Linked DNA regions of Homo sapiens: region 1 is linked to region 2. The links come from fine-mapping of genetic effects on gene expression. A gene starts in region 2. The other region holds a variant in brackets. All regions are shown on one strand. Distances are from middle to middle.

What was found. PIP is the estimated chance that this variant, and not a neighbour inherited with it, causes the effect.
Region 1: its variant is fine-mapped to the expression of FBXO10 in whole blood (TOPMed, PIP 0.91).

What each region holds. Positions count from the first base shown.
Region 1 is chr9:37,513,289-37,516,200 of GRCh38, reverse strand. It overlaps FBXO10 (F-box protein 10), which reads left to right. Exons shown (of 11, transcript NM_012166.3): 10 at 116-297. Among named protein-coding and RNA genes, the nearest start is that of POLR1E, 29 kb to the right of the region's middle. RefSeq lists an enhancer at 302-803. The variant T/C (reference allele first, on the strand shown) is at 1,418.
Region 2 is chr9:37,574,898-37,577,809 of GRCh38, reverse strand. It overlaps FBXO10 (F-box protein 10), which reads left to right and starts at 1,430. Exons shown (of 11, transcript NM_012166.3): 1 at 1,430-1,599. RefSeq lists a silencer at 1,397-1,776.

The DNA of each region.
Region 1 (2,912 bases), 62 kb after region 2:
GACCTGCCTGGCATGTTCCTGCCTCTTGGTTTTAGAACTGATAATTCACTTGCCCAGCTCTCCCACTCAGTCTGTGAATCCCTGAGGTGTGACAATCTCTGGCTGCCTCTCCCAGGTAATAAAGAACCGGATCCACTCGTTCCGGGCCTACGGCATCGCCGTGCGGGGCCGTGCCAAGGCCCTGGTGCAGGAAAACATCATCTTCCAGGGCAAAACCAGTAAGACCATCTTTCAGCAGATCTCAAACAACCGAGAATGCATCATGCAAAACAACAAGTTCCTGGTCTTCAAGAAAAAGTGAGTGCTTGGGGTTGCCTGAACGAGTCCTCTAGAGCCACAGTAAGCTCCCTGAAGAAGCCAGGCCCACACCCAGGGATTGTGGCTGCCCGGGCTCCCTGCAACCCTGCCAGCTGTCGACTCCAGTCAGAAAAAGGCCTGTGCCTGGCTCTATGTCAGGCCCGGGCTGAGGACTCCCCAGGAGGGAACAAGCTTTTTAAGAGTCAGGGGTATGTGGTTTCAGATCTCAGCTCTGCAGGTTACTGGCTGTGTGACCTTGGGCAACTTACTTCACATCTTCGAGCCTTAGTAAAATCCATTTAATAAGATCACACTATCTGGCTGAATCTCTGAGGGGCTGTAAAAATGTTAGTTGATGCTGCTGCTGTCCTTTAGTCACTCTGCCTCAATGTATCACAATTGCCGCCACCCATCTTCCTCAAACCTGTCTGTCCTTTCACGTTCTCCATTTCAGCGACATCACCATCCACTCAGTGTTCTGACAACAAAACTTCTGCTGCCTTTTTCTCCCTAATCCGAAGATGTCCAGTCAGTCAGTCACCAGGTCTTGTTGATTCTGCTTCTAAAATGTTCCTTTTTCCAGCACCTCCTCTTCCCCAACTGCCCCCATCCTAATTCAGGTCTCAGCACCGCTCACCCTAACCTGTACCGCCTGTGTTACTGCAATGCACAGCTGTTCCAGTTGCTTCTGCTTGGGCTGTGTTCTGATTGGTCCGTGCTTTCGCTTTCACATTCTGGTTGTAAAATCATACTGATATTTGCTGTAGTTGGTATCACTCCTGCACCGCCAATGTCACCTGTCCCCCTGCAGCAGCCTCCTGCCAGTCTCCCTGCCCGTGGCCACCCCCTGCTCCACTCTGGAGGTTGTCCCATGCATCCTGCCAGGTTAATCTTTCTAAGTGAGAGCTCTGGTCAGTCACATCACATCCATGGTTTAAAACCTCTCATGGATCTTCATGTTCTGTTGTAATGATCTCCATACTTTTTGTATTACACACACTCTCGGGAAAAAATATTCTTTGAAGAAACCCCCCGATGTAGGTATACCTAATTATTTATTTATTTATTTAGAGACCAAGTCTCACTCTGTTGCCCAGGCTGCAGTGCAGTGGTGCGATCT[T/C]GGCTCACTGCAACCTCTTCCTCCCAGATTCAAGCGATCCTCCTGCCTCAGCCTCCTGAGCAGCTGGGATTACAGGCGCCCACCACCACTCCCGGCTGATTTTTGTGTTTTTAGTAGAGACAGTTTCGCCATGTTGACCAGGCTGGTCTCGAACTCCTGACCTCAGGTGATCCACCCGCCTTGGCCTCCCAAAGTATTGAGATTACAGGTGTGAGCCACCGCGCCTCACCGGTATACCTATTTATAACTTATATATGTGTATTCTAGCAGTATATTATTTACATTATAAACTATCCCCAAAATAGAAAATTTTAAAGTATACAGTTAAAAAAAACCAAAATTCTAGTATTTTCTTCCAATATCCCAGCAGATTATATTGTGGACTCCCTGGGATCCACCTCCTCCTTCCCTTTGGAGACCCCAGGGTACAGGATACAGCCCGGACTTTGCCAATGCCAGCTCTGGTATTGTCCGCTGTGTACCCTGAGGTCCTAATTGTCTTTTCCAGCCTCTCATTTCATCACTCCTTTTCAGTAGTGCTCCCCTGCTGCCAAACTCAAATACATACAGTCCTCCCAACATAGCTTAGGCCTTTTTATTCACATGCTAGTAGCCAACCTCTGATTCCGTCCACACCTTTCCAGTCCTTTCATTGTAACATCATTATCATAAAAATACATATAAGACAATGTGTTGCCTTAAGCAAATGGAGACTTAGTGTGTAAAGTTGGTTCCTTGTAACTCAAGCATCAGAAAACTCTGACCACAGCTTCACTATCATTTTATTTTCCCTGGCCCTCCATGCTCTCTACAAGAGTTTGGGTGACTGGAAACCCACCAACTTCTATCCCCCATAGATTTGCATTTTCCCAAATGTCATATAAAAGAAATCGTGGCCGGGTGCGGTGGCTCACGCCTGTAATCCCAGCACTTTGGGAGGCCGAGGTGGGTGGATCACCTGAGGTCGGGATTTCGAGACCAGCCTGGCCAACATGGTGAAACCCCATCTCTACTAAAAATACAAAAATTAGCTGGGCATCATGGCACGCAACTGTAGTCCCAGCTACTCGGGAGGCTGAGCCAGGAGGATCACTCGAACCTGGGAGGAAGAGGTTGCAGTGAACCCAGATCACACTACTGCACTCCAGCCTGGGTAACAGAGCAAGACTCCGTCTCGGAAAAAATATATATATATATTAAAAAATAAAAGTAAAAACAAAAAAAACCCAGAAATCCTGCAGTATGTAGTCTTTTGAGTCTGGCTTCTTTCACTTAGCCTAACATGCTGGAGATTCATTCATGGTGTTGCATGTAAGGCGTTCATTCCTTTCAATTGCTGAGTAGTCTTCCCCTGTATGGGTGTACTGCACAGTTTATTCACTCATCAGCTGAAGCGTATTTAGGTAGTTTCTAGTTTTTGGTGATTATGAATAAAGCTTCTATAAACATTTGTGGTCATAGAGCTGAAAAGAAATGAAAGAGGAAAAGCTGGCAC
Region 2 (2,912 bases):
TCTATACTGGCTGTATAATTCAGTGTATGAGAGTTCCCTTTTCTCCATGTCCTCACCAGCATTTGTTATTTTTTTGTCTTTTTGTTAATAGTCATTCTAACTGGCAGTGTCAAATTTAACAAGTTCAAATGGGAGTTCTTGATCTCCCCCCGCTTCCAAATATATTCCCCTTACAATAGTTCCCATTTCAATAAATAGCACCTCCACGGGCCCAGTTAATAGGTTAAGCTACCAATCTCTGCTTCCACCCTTAACTCCTGTCTTCACATAGTAGCTGACATACTGCTTTAAAAGGTATCAAATCCTCCACCCCTTCGATGGCTTCCTGTTACGTACAATTTTAAAATCCTTATCATGGCCTATTAAGTGCTGCGTGATCTGGCCCCTACCTACCTTTCTGACCTCACTTATATTGTTCTTCCCGTTAAAAAGCTTCAGACAAGCTAGACGTTTTCCATTTCCACAAAGAGCGATCTTTTCTCCTCCAACCCAACCCACCTGGTCCAAGAGTTTTCACAGGGCTTACCCTGCCCCTCTTCCATTTGGCTAACTCTTTATCTTACTCTGAGAGGTCTTCCTTGACTACCCTTCCTTGGTCCCTAATTTATTTAGTTTTATTTTTGAAACAAGAGTCTCGCCCTGTCACCCAGGCTGGAGTGCAGTGGCACAATCATGGCTCACTGTTAACCTCGAACTCCTGAGCTCAAGTGATCTTTCCTCCAGCCTCGGCCTGCAAAAGCGCTGGGATTACAGGCATGAACACCTGGCCCCTATTTTTAAATTACAGCTCCTTCCGTGCATTTTCTACAATTTTAAACACATATTGGTTTAAATGACACTTGATTACCGTCTACCTTCTCCACTACAGAATTAACTTCAGGAGAAGAGGAACCATATCTGCTTTGTTCACTTTTGTGCCCATAATAGTAACGGCACCAGCAGCAACAAACATACAGCATTTACTTTGTGGCAGGCATTATGCTAAGCGCCATACATACAACTAATTTAATATGTACTCCTAGTACATTGTCTGGCAGGTAGCCAATGGTCAGTTTGTTCAGTGAATGAACCCAGACCCTACATGCTCATCTACAGGGTGCCTAGCACCCCAGGAAACTGCTCCTTATACTGTTAGATAACTGGTGCTCGCAGGAATCTTATTTACACTGTATTGGCCTTAGCATGCCTCCCTGCAGTTTCCACCCACTGGTTCTATTTCTGCCCCTTCTGGGGCCACGCAACACGAGCCTGAATCGTCCTTCCGCAAGCTCGCCTTTGCAGTACCCGAAGCCCCACGCGCCCCCTCCTCGTCTGCCTTCCTCCCGCCTCCCGGTGCCCCTCCTGCAGATACAGCTTTTATGCGCGGTGGTCGGGAAGCCCAGCCCCGGCCAGCCAGCTGCTCCCGGCATCCTTCGCCGCCTTGCGCGTCACATGACGGCGGCGGCTCCGCACGATCCCCAGGCAGCTGTCCGCCCCCGGGCGGGGCTGGCCGCACGCCGCAATCCTACCGGCTGCTGCGGCTCCAGCGGGGGCGGCGGGTGGCTTCCAGGGCACCGGCGGCCGCGGCCCGGACTCCGCGGTGGGCGAGCGCCCTGTGAGGTAAGCGGCCGGTGCGCAGAGGCTGCGGGCGAACTTGGGCGGCCGGGGGAGGGGACCCGGGGCGCTTCCCCAGGCGACCGACCCAGGAGGCGCCGCTCAGTCCTGGCCGAGGCTGAGCGTCTGGTCGGGCTTCGGGCATCAGGGGTCTGGCAGGACCATGAGGCGTACCCTCAGGCCGCCCGCGGCTCCGCGGTCCCCCGGCATCCGGAGGCTCAGGCGCGCCGACGGAGAGCTATGCCTTGGTTTACCCTCCCGTAAAACTACCGGACGCGGAGCATGTATCTCCGCGGTGCCTCCAGCCCTGAGATTTTTCGAGTGTGTAAGTAAAGTCGAAGAAGAAGAAGCTGACTCTTGGGATGGGAAGAGCCTTCACCTAGGAACGCAGGGGCAAATATGGGGCTGGGCACCCACTGTGTATTTTATGCAAATCTCAAGGGGCAAATATGGGGCTGGGCACCCACTGTGTATTTTATGCAAATCTCAAGCCTCTCAGACGGTTTTTTCATCTTTAAACAAAAAGTGATAACCCCTGTCCTGCCTCGCTCTTAGGACTACAGTGAAGAACAGAGGGGAAAGTCATTTGAGGAGCCAGAACTCTGGAGTCAGTTAGCTCTGGTTCAGATCACAGTTCTGCCACTTACTGGCTTTGTGACCTTCAGCCAGATTGATTCCTCATCTGTGAAAAGGAGGTAATAAGCTCATGGGTTGCTGGGAGGATTAATTGTAAAGGGTTTAGCACACAGTGTCTGGCACAAAAGCCTCAGTAGATAATGCTGTTAATATAAGCATTATTAGTAAGCTAGAGATTGCCCCACGTGAAGGGCTTTTTCAGCAGAATAATCACATTTGTTTCTATATTTTTAGTCCTGAAAACTGCCGTTTTGGTTTGTAAGACCTTTTCTTTTTCTCATTCTGGGCCCCCTTTGCCTTCTCTTTTACAATTGGCATATGAACCTGTTGTTCCTACCATATGAGTCAGGCTGGATGGGAACATCAATTTACTTGAGCAGATTGGTATCAGATTCCCTCTGAGGGGAGAGAAAAGTGCCAGGCATGTGTAGCCACCGAAAAAAAAAACACAGTACGGTGATTGACTGTCAGAGCTGGAGGATGCCTGGGAAACCATCTAATCCAGCTGTCTCCTTTGCAAATGGAGAGACTGGACCCAGAAGGACGACAGGACTTTGATTTTGCTCAGGACCCAACAGAGTGCTGGCAGTGGGTAGTGGAGAGGATGGACCTTTTACCAGGCACTGTGCTTTCCCTCAGTTCTAATCTCATTCCGCATTTATTCAGCAGCTATATGGAACCCC